Linked DNA regions of Homo sapiens. The protein of the gene in region 1 purifies or fractionates together with the protein of each later gene. This does not show direct contact. Each region holds a gene or a part of one and is shown on either strand. Other genes may lie near its edges.

Region 1 (3,655 bases):
TATAGGCGCCCGCCAGCATGCCCGGCTAATTTTTATATTTTTAGTAGAGACGGGGTTTCATCATATTGGTCAGGCTGGTCTCGAACTCCTGACCTCAGGTGATCTGCCCACCTCGGCCTTCCAAAGTGTTGGGATTACAGGCGTGAGCCATTGCGCCCGACCTATGCATGGCATATCTGAAGCTTCAATAAATGTTAACTGTTATTATTATCAGAAAGAATACTTTCCTAGGTCTGTGCTGTCCAGTAAGGTAGCCACTAGCCACATGTGGCTACTTAAATTCTTTTTTTTTTTGAGACAGAGTTTTGCTCTTGTTGTCCCGCTTGGCTCACGGCAACCTCCGCCTCCTGGGTCCAAGTGATTCTCCTGCCTCAGCCTCCTGAATAGCTGGGATTACAGGCGCGTGCCACCACGCCCAGCTAATTTGTTGCATTTTTAGTAGAAATAGGGTTTCAACATGTTGGCAAGGCTGGTCTCGAACTCCTGACCTCAGGTGATCCGCCGCCTCAGCTTCCCAAAATGCTGGGATTACAGGCGTGAGCCACCACGCCCGGCCTAAATTCAAATTAATTAAAATAAAATATTCAGTTTCTTAAGTCATATTAGCTACATGTATGTCACATGTGTGTCACATGTGGATAGTGGCTACCATATGGGCCAGTGCAGATAGAACATTGTCATCATCATAGAAGGTTCTATTGAACAGAGCTATTCTAGGCATTTTCCTAGAATACTGTGAAAAGGCAATTCCTAGAGTAGCTCTTAACTTGTCTAATTTCCTCTTTTATTTATTTATTTTTGAGACACGGTCTCACTCTGTCACCCAGGCTGGAGTGCAGTGGTGCCGACATGGCTCGCTGCAACCTTGCCCTCCCTGGGCTCAGGTGATCCTTCCACTCCAGCCTCCCGAGTAGCTGGGTCTACAGGCGTTTGTCACCATGCCCAGCTAATTTTTGTATTTTTTGCAAAGACGGGGTCTTAATGTATTACCCAGGTGGACCTTGAATTCCTGGGCTCAGGCGATCTGCTTGTCTTGGCCTCCCAAGGTGTGAGCCACTGCGCCTGGTCTATTTTTATTTTTATTTTTTAGAGACGTGGTCTTGCTGTGTTGCCCAGGCTGGTCTCAAACTTCTAGGCTCAAGCTATTTATTTATTTATTTTATTTTATTTTTTGAGATGGAGTTTCACCCTTGTTGCCTAGGCTGGAGTGCAGTGGCGCGATCTTGGCTCACCGCAACCTCCGCTTCCTGGGTTCAAGTGATTCTCCTGCCTCAGCCTCCAGAGTAGCCGGGATTACAGGCATGCGCTACCATGCCCGGCTAATTTTGTATTTTCAGTAGAGACGGGGTTTCTCCATGTTGGTCAGGCTGGTCTTGAACTCCCAACATCAGGTGACCTGCCCGCCTTGGCCTCCCAAACTGCTGGGATTACAGGCATGAGCCACCGTGCCCAGCAAGCTATTCATTTTTTTGAGATAGTGTCTTACTCTGTCGCCCAGGTTGGAGTGCAGTGGCACGATCACAGCTTACTGCAGCCTTGACCTCCCAGGCTCATTCAGCATCCTGCCATTCTATAAGATCTTACTGTAGCTGTGGTTATAACTCCCCCCAGGCTGAAAGGGTGAAAATTGAGTTAAGATTATTCAGCTGGGCATGGTGGCTCATGCCTGTAATCCTAGCACTTTGGGAGGCCAAGGCGAGTGGATCACTTGAGGTCAGGAGTTTGAGACCAGTCTGACCAACATGGTGAAACTCCGTCTCTACTAAAAATACAAAATTAGCCAGGTATGGTGGTACACACCTGTAATCCCAGCTACTCGGGAGGCTGAGGCAGGAGAATCGCTTGAACCTGGGAGGCAGAGGTTGCAGTGAGCCGAGATTGTGCCATTGAACTCCAGCCTGGACAACAGAGCAAAACTACATCTCAAAAAAAAAAAAAAAAAAAAAAGATTATTCTATGTAATCCTCCAATTCACTTTCCAGATGTTTTCTTCTTCCTCTTTGCAGGTGGAGATCACACAATCACATATCCCATATTGCAAGCGATGGCAAAAAAGTAAGTCTCAAATGGCTTGGGCCCAGCAAGATTTCAAAAGCCAGAAGCTAGGGAATGAGTTATTTGCTGTTTGGTGGCATTAGGTGACTGCTGCTGGCTCAGGTTATGAGCTGCTTCTGGGGATCAAAATTAAGGTTGAGCTCCAGGTGTCTCTGTCAGTCAGCAGCTAGAAGCCAAGACAATTTATTATTAACAGTTCTGGCCACCCTCCCTTGCCCTAGATCTCTCCTGGTATGTGTGCTCAGCATTTTCAACTTGCTTCTGTTTTTGGAAGATGAGCCTCTAGTGAAATACACAACCTCAGTTAACTTCAGTTTCTGTTTTGCTTCAATGGCCAAAAACAAACACTGACAGGCACAATGGTGGACCTTGCTGAGAGGCCCTTGTTTCCTCCTGAAAGGGCACCTTTCTCAATCAAAAGACTGATTTGCCAGTAGTGGAAGTCTACCCAGGATTGGCCGACTTTGGCTAATTTAGTTTGAGAAAGAGACAGAAGGACCCGGGTGGAGGGTGGCAGCTCCAGAATGTGTCTGTGGAAGCACATGTGGGTGGCATTCTGGTTGGAGGTGGGAGGGTGCAGGTCTTTGCTCAAAGCTGCATTTATTCCTCACGGATTTGGATCAGATGTTTATTTTGGGTGGCTGGCAGGGGTTGATGGAGGTTATGGAGAGAGCTGGATTAAAGCTTCCTCTTCCTCGGTTGGAGAAAGGGTGTGTCTTGGTTTAGTTAAGCCTTCAGCCAAGCTCCCCTGTGCCACCACCCTTGATTCTCATCCTGTCTCTAAGTGAAGCAAATTCTGGGTGATAGGTGTGGGTGGCAGCCAAAACATGTCTATTTCCTGCCTGACTTCTGTGAGTTTATTGTTCCTCTGAGATGCAAAGTGATCTCAAGAAGACAGGAACCAGTTGCAAGGCAGAAAACGGATGCCAGGTCTCCCCTTTTTGGCTGTGAATTGTCACCAAGTTTTGGTGGCCCGAAGGGTGGCTGTGCTAGGGCCCCACAGGGAGGGTTGGCCTCTGAGCTGCCCTGTTGTCATCAGGCATGGCCCAGTGGGGCTGCTGCACGTGGATGCGCACACGGACACGACCGACAAGGCCCTAGGAGAGAAGCTCTACCACGGGGCGCCCTTCCGCCGGTGTGTGGATGAGGGTCTCCTGGACTGTAAGCGTGTGGTGCAGATTGGCATCCGGGGCTCTTCCACGACCTTGGATCCCTACAGATACAACCGGAGCCAGGTGACAGACCGAATGCCCCCCACCCTTGCCCCTCAAAATGTCTTCCTCTCCGTTGCCTCACCAGTGGCAGCCAGGGATTGAGCGGGGGCTTTACTAATCAAGTCTGAAGCAGGGATACAAGGCTGAGTTTGCATCATCAGGGGCATAAGGAGCATAGGAGTGAGGAAGTTGGTTTATGGGCCATGGGAAGTCTATCGCTGGGCGGGGGAGACAAGCAGAAATCGACCAACCCCTCGGACGGTGCTGGCTTAGAAGAGGGGAGGAGGCCGGGCACAGTGGCTCACACCTGTAATCCCAGCACTTTGGGAGGCTAAGGTGGGTGGATCACCTGAGGTCAGGAGTTCGAGACCAGCCTGGCCAACATG
Region 2 (3,636 bases), on another chromosome or scaffold:
TGGTTACAGGACTGAAGTCTTTATTTTTTTGCTGCTGTCAGCTGAAGGCGATCCTCAACTTTGAGAGATTTCCCATATTCCTTGGCTCATGAAACCTTCCCCAACTGAAAGCCAGTAACAATGGTTGGTTGAGTCCCTCTCACACTTTGAATCTCTCTTTCTTCTTACATTGCTTCTGTCTGACAAGATATTATCCAGGATCATGTCTCCCATCTCCAAGTTCATAAATTTAATTTCATCTGGAAAGCCCTTTTTTTCATATAAGGTAGTATATTCACGTGTTCCAGGGATTAGGGCATTCACATTTTAGGAGATCTGTTATTCTGCCTACAAAGGCTGTGTTCTGATAAATTTTATAAAAAACAAGCGGTGGACTGTATTTAGCCCTAGGGTCTAGGTTTGTGTTATGCAACCACATGTAATATAAATGTATATATTTATCAGCCTGTATTGAACACAATAGAATATTTTTTCTGCAGTATGCCATTCAATACTTTTTCTGACAATAGAGGAGTTCTCATGTTCCCTCCACAACTTTTGCCATGTCCATATACCAACCAGGTGCTATTTATTTCAATACTACTGAGTTATTTCCTTTAAATAACATAAGCCAAATAGCATATGTTGGCCTCGTCCTGAGTAATAATTTCCTTAATGAAATTAAGAGTTAGTAAGTCTAGTTATGTTCTCCTAATAGACATTACAATGAATTCAAAACTATTGAAGTGATCAAAAGTTAGCCTAAGAAGGCCCTAATTTTTTTTTTTTTTTTTTTTTTTGAGACAGTGTCTCACACTGTCACCTGGGCTGGAGTGCAATGGTGCAATCTCAGCTCACTGCAACCTCCGCCTCCTGGGTTCATGCGATTCTTCTGCCTCAGCCTCCCGAGTAGCTGGGATTACAGGCAGGTGCACACCACCACACCCAGCTAATTTTTTGTATTTTTAGTAGAGATGGGGTTTCATTATGTTGGCCAGACTGGTCTTGAACTCCTGACCTCGTGATCCACCCGCCTCGGCCTCCCAAAGTGCTGGGATTGCAAGTGTGAGCCACCACCCCTGGTGGTGGAAATAAGACATTTGTAACATATGGCTTTATAGGCTGACATGTCGGTGTTTAAACCCGGATTCTATCATTGTGTTCTTTTAGCAGCACCTTCTAGGATTTTCCTAGAAAAAAATGCTGTTTGCCAATGGCAAGTTAAGGAGCATTTGCTTATTGGTAGATTATTTAGAGAAACATGCAATTACAGATGAAATTTCTGAACAAGGCCCAAATGAATACATTATTATTCCTCCACCAAGTGTCTGATGCTATTATGAAATTTGTCAAATTCTGAGCATCCCAACCAACAGAACTGAATCAAGTAGGGTAAGGAAAGTATTCTAGCTGCATTGTGACACCCCAGCCTTCAGCAAAGAGCATGCATGTTTATCACAGTAAGCCACACCTTTTAAGTTTTAGCATTTTTTCTTTGGCTAATAATTTGTCTTGTTTAAATACACTTCTTTGATATACAATTAGGGTATACCTTTTTTTTTTTTTTTTTTTTTTTTTTTTTTTTTTTTTTTTTTTTACCAAGACCAAAACAGCCATTTCAACTTTTCTGCAAGAATGGTGCTTATGGCTTCTACGTTACCGGAAAGCAAACTTCAAACACCACACCATACAACAGCTTATAAAGAATATTTAGGCCCAGGTGTTGATACTTTTTCTTCTGCAAAATTGTTCCAGAAGCTGTACTGTCTTTCTAGATGGTGGTATTTGCTAACATCATATCCAACTCAGGGAAGCGGACTGAGTGCTGGGATCCAAGGCATTCTACAGGGTTCACTGCTGGTTTACACTTCACCTGTGTCAGCACCATCTTCAGGTGCTTAGAATGGCCTGGGAGCCTGTTCTGTCTTGCATCTTCCATGACATGAAAGGGAGGCTGGCACTTGTCAGTCAGGTAGAGGTTACAAACCGTTTCAGGCCCTGCCTACCACATTCACTGTTTGAATCTTTAATTCCCAAGAATAAGTTTACATTTCACAATGAATGACCTACAACAGCTAAATTTTCTGGGGCTGGGAGTAATACTGACAATCCATTTACTGTAGCTCTGCTTAATGTACTACTTAGGAAAATGTCCCTGCTTAATAATGTAAGCCAAGCTAAATGATGGTTAAAGTTATCAGGCCTCCCATGAAATTGCGTTCTTCCTGCATTGAAATAAAAACATTATTGGGAAACTAGAGAACACCTCTATTTTTAAAAGGACTTTAACGAAGTCAAACAACTTATAAGACTAGTGATTCACTGGGGCATTATTTTGTTAGAGGACCTTAAAATTGTTTATTTTTTAAATGTGATTCCTTTATGGCATTAGGGTAAAGATGAAGCAATAATTTTTAAATTGTGTATGTGCATATGAAGCACAGACATGCATGTGTGTGTGTGTCTGTGTGTGTGTGTCCGTGTATGTGTGTGTGGGTTCTAATGGTAATTTGCCTCAGTCATTTTTTTAATATTTGCAGTACTTGATTTAGGATCTGTGGTGCAGGGCAATGTTTCAAAGTTTAGTCACAGCTTAAAAACATTCAGTGTGACTTTAATATTATAAAATGATTTCCCATGCCATAATTTTTCTGTCTATTAAATGGGACAAGTGTAAAGCATGCAAAAGTTAGAGATCTGTTATATAACATTTGTTTTGTGATTTGAACTCCTAGGAAAAATATGATTTCATAAATGTAAAATGCACAGAAATGCATGCAATACTTATAAGACTTAAAAATTGTGTTTACAGATGGTTTATTTGTGCATATTTTTACTACTGCTTTTCCTAAATGCATACTGTATATAATTCTGTGTATTTGATAAATATTTCTTCCTACATTATATTTTTAGAATATTTCAGAAATATACATTTATGTCTTTATATTGTAATAAATATGTACATATCTAGGTATATGCTTTCTCTCTGCTGTGAAATTATTTTTAGAATTATAAATTCACGTCTTGTCAGATTTCATCTGTATACCTTCAAATTCTCTGAAAGTAAAAATAAAAGTTTTTAAATATTTGAGAGACTTCCCCTCTTTATTGCCTTTGTTACAACAAAATAAAAACAAATTCAAACTTTATTTTACTGGTAGAAAATTTTCTCATATGGCCTACAAGCCCTATATCACAAAATTTACCCTTAGATAAATCTAGACTTTAATAGCAGTTTTACTGAAAGTTTATTCTTGTAATTGCAAAATAACTTTCCATTTTGTTGCTGCTTAAATATTTCCCAAGTCCAGTTACTTCTATCTCTACCCCCTTTCCAATCACACAATCAGTCACACACTGGTTGTGTGATTGAAAGGGGGGTAGAACGGCCTGGGAGCCTGTTCTCTCTTGTATCTTTCATGACATGAAAGGGAGGCTGGCACTTGGCAGTCAGGTAGAGGTTACGAACCATTTCAGCCCCTGCCTACCACATTCACTGTTTGAATACTTAATTCCCAAGAATAAGTTTACATTTCACAATGAAAGACCTACAACAGCCAAATTTTCCGTGGCTGGGAGCAATACTGACAATCTCTTGCCTGGACCACTAATATCTCTAGTCTCTGCAGGAGCTCCCAGCTGATCTCAGTCCTCTCT
Region 3 (3,655 bases), on another chromosome or scaffold:
TTTTGCGATATTAGTCATTTCCTCTAGCCCAAGGTAAATGTGAAAATTACACTAGATCCTTCCAATCCATAAATCAGGCTGTATAATGTATTCTCACTTCTTTACCTCATTACTTGTGGCAGCCAAGGGTGAGCACTGGTGAAGATGACCCTGAATACACAGATCTTATGTGCATCCTTTGAGAGGATGGAAAGATGAAGGGTGAGTGGTAGAAACATGAGAGTATTTTTCAAGCAAAAGCTAAGGTGTTTATATGTACTGGTTGTTATTTAGACAGTTTCTCTACCTAGTGTAGCATAAGGAGTAGAGGACACACTTATACACACATATAAACATTCAACATATGCACACACATTTCACATTTCAATATTCCATACTTGGCCATATACTCTGTGCAAAGGATGACCTGGTTTCTTATCAAGTATGTATGTATGCCTGATATACAAGGTTACTTGGTTCATTTTAACTTGGCATAAAAATGTTTTAACTTTGAAAGTTTTCCTTGGTTCATAATATCACAAAGGGATGGGACTTTGAGTCCAAAAATAGGACAGGGATTTTAAGAAATAGAAATGTTAAAAATTCTCCAGTAATGCCCCTGAAAGCTAAACATCCTAGAAACTAACATAAATGTTTAAATTCCAGAAAAAACCATATCAAGCTTGGAACTCCACTTGTTATATTAAATTTAGATATGCTCTTTGTCCTTAGAACCCTTAGCTTTACAGAGTTCTTCAACTAGGTGTGTCATTATATTGAAGGATGTTTTGAGAATTACTCTTGAATTTGGATGAGCCAAGTTTTTAGCCCAATTAGGAATTGCACCTAAGGTTGGTTAGTATCACCATTTATTGAAAAGTTCTACTCCAGTGTCAGTGTGTATTAGTTTGGTTAGAATAATCCATATATCTGCTATTAAACTAATCACCTAATCACTTATTTCTTGCCTTAGGGGAAAGCTATGTCTGTTCCTCAGACAACTTCTTTAAAAAGGTGGAGTACACCAAGAATGTCAATCCCAACTGGTCTGTCAACGTAAAAACATCTGCCAATATGAAAGCCCCCCAGTCCTTGGCTAGCAGCAACAGTGCACAGGCCAGGGAGAACAAGGACTTTGTGCGCCCCAAGCTGGTTACCATCATCCGCAGTGGGGTGAAGCCTCGGAAGGCTGTGCGTGTGCTTCTGAACAAGAAGACAGCCCACTCTTTTGAGCAAGTCCTCACTGATATCACAGAAGCCATCAAACTGGAGACCGGGGTTGTCAAAAAACTCTACACTCTGGATGGAAAACAGGTAGGTACTTTTTCAAAGTACTTTTCCCGTTTTTTCTAAATTCTTAGATGATCATGTTATACCTAAAATATCATTTCTTGTTGACGGACTCTTCCTCCACATCTCATCATCACAACCTGATATTATAGGTTTCATTTGGAGAAAAGGTATTTTTAGCAGGCAAAGCAATGAATCAGGAATCTGAGGCTTTGAAATTCAATCTGCTTCTGATTTACCATGCAGAAAGGTCACTTAGCCTCAGCTTCCTTATCTGCTATGAAAGATGTGTTAGAACCTAGGTTCTATGAATTCTTATGAATATGAATTTAGCTATTATATGATGCAACCTTCATTGTTCAATACATGTGACTGAAAATGATATTTGCCCATTCATTACTTTTTAGATACCCTCACATTGATGCTCAGCATCTATTTTGATAAAAGGAAGTTGAAGTGACCTTCATATGCTCTGAAAGAAGTCAGATACGGGGAAAGCACTGAAGCCTCTGGCTCGTTGTCTTTGCCTCACACTAAACCATATTTATTCTCTTTCTCTTTTCCATATGACATAGCTGTCTTAATTTGGTTCCACTGATGGTTTGTGTGAGAAAGGGACTATTTCAGGATCCTAAAATTAGCCCAAGAAAGATGCTGCCATCTGTTCCCCCTCCAAATCAGGTTCTTCATGTCATTGGTTATACTACTAAAGTGCCACCTATATTAATATCTGGGAAAGAATGCAGCCAGGCGTCTCCATCAGACAGATGCACCATTCTCTTAAGCATAGGGAGCTGTAAATATACAACAAAAATGTTCCAAGGGAATTGGAACAGTGGCTGGTTCTGTTGGCTCTAAAGAGAATTCTGGTCTCCCATCAGAAAAGACAAGTGTGGATTAGTATCAGTCCATATATTCTACCTCTTAAAATGCCTTTGGTGTTTAAACAACTATATAGAAAAGGTATTCCTAAAAGGCGGATTCACTATATATCAAAGTTACTGATGAGTGTTCAAATGCAGACCTGTGCCTCCTCCTATAATTTCTGATAGTAATGTGTGCTCCAAGATTTTAAGTTTCAGGGAAAACTCACCCAGGTACTGTGTACTTTGCAATTTTGAGAAATATTTGGCTTTGTTTCCCATCATTTTGCGATCTGAGAGCTACCTGGACACATTGGTTATACCTGACTTCTGTTTGTTGTACTGAAGCAATGGGTTTGTCTGTGATGTTGGGAAAATCTCCAATTCCCAAGCATTTCTCTAAGAGTGTCTATCTTCTAAGCACCATGTATGTAATAAACAGGAGCTGTCTAAGTATAGGCCTGATTGCCAAAGCCTCATCTCAGAGAAATAGGACATAGAAAGTTTAGAATCATTGGATCACAGAGTTGAGAATGACTTTAGAAGCCATGACATTTAATCTTCCACCTAAGGCATGGATATCCTCTACAATCACTCTATAAGACTATAAGACAGCCTATTTCACTGTTCAACAGCTGTGATTTTTAGAGTTTCTTTATATTAGGCATAAATCTGATTCCCTGTGCCTTCAGCCTTCTGAAGTAATATAGGAATATGCAAATCAAAAACATAAGACTGGGATTAAGAAGATTTGGACTTTAGTCTTGATATTGTCACTTAACCACTTAACTGTCCTGAACCTCACACTCCTTCTCTGTACAAAAGGACTGATCACACCTGCCCTGAGCATGCTCACAGGACTCTTATGAGGATTAAATCAAATAATGGATATGAAAGCACTCTGTAAATTGACACATGGATGTATATATATATATATGCATATAATTCATCATTAAATGAGATTTATGGCAATTTTCATATATTAATAAATGTTAGCTCTCTTTCTCCTACTTTATTTATTTATTTATTTACTTTTGGAGTCAGAGTCTCACTCTGTCACCCAGGCTGGAGTGCAGTGGTGTGAATTTGGCTCACTGCAACCTCTGCCTCCTGAGTTCAAGCAATTCTCCTGCCTCAGCCTCCCAAGTAGCTGGGACTACAGACGCACGCTGCAATACCCGGCTAATTTTTTTGTATTTTAGTAGAAACGGGTTTTCACTGTGTTGCCCGGGATGGTCTTGAACTCCTGAGCTAGGGCAATCCGCCCACCTTGGCCTTCCAAAGTGCTAGGATTATAGGCATGAGCCACCATGCCTAGCCTCTTCCCCCTACTTTATCTCTATCATTCTTATTATAAATTTCCAACATTTGTGAATATATACCATGCCTTGGCATTCTGCTTTTGTTCCAAATAATATATAAAGGGACACCTCCATCTCCTAGGGAAGCAAGCTCCAGTCCAGTGATGCATAGGGTTTTGTCCTACAGCAGGCCATGCAGAGTGGCAAGCTCTCTCAAACTCC

What was found.
Region 2: the proteins of AGMAT (region 1) and CYP24A1 purify together in Homo sapiens (affinity purification with mass spectrometry; one large-scale study listed by BioGRID and IntAct). This does not show direct contact.
Region 3: the proteins of AGMAT (region 1) and DCX purify together in Homo sapiens (affinity purification with mass spectrometry; one large-scale study listed by BioGRID and IntAct). This does not show direct contact.

What each region holds. Positions count from the first base shown.
Region 1 is NC_000001.11:15,578,494-15,582,148, reverse strand, and holds part of AGMAT (guanidino acid hydrolase, mitochondrial precursor), read left to right. Parts: intron 1-2,006; coding exon 2,007-2,055; intron 2,056-3,094; coding exon 3,095-3,290; intron 3,291-3,655. UniProt on the Homo sapiens protein: Hydrolyzes linear guanidino acids to form urea and the corresponding amines. Displays specificity for substrates having a negatively charged head group and short chains including taurocyamine, guanidino propanoic and butanoic acids.
Region 2 is NC_000020.11:54,152,880-54,156,515, reverse strand, and holds the end of CYP24A1 (1,25-dihydroxyvitamin D(3) 24-hydroxylase, mitochondrial isoform 1 precursor), read left to right. Parts: exon of another isoform or gene 1-1,754; 3' UTR 1,755-3,070; downstream 3,071-3,636.
Region 3 is NC_000023.11:111,398,628-111,402,282, reverse strand, and holds part of DCX (neuronal migration protein doublecortin), read left to right. Parts: intron 1-952; coding exon 953-1,293; intron 1,294-3,655. UniProt on the Homo sapiens protein: Microtubule-associated protein required for initial steps of neuronal dispersion and cortex lamination during cerebral cortex development. May act by competing with the putative neuronal protein kinase DCLK1 in binding to a target protein.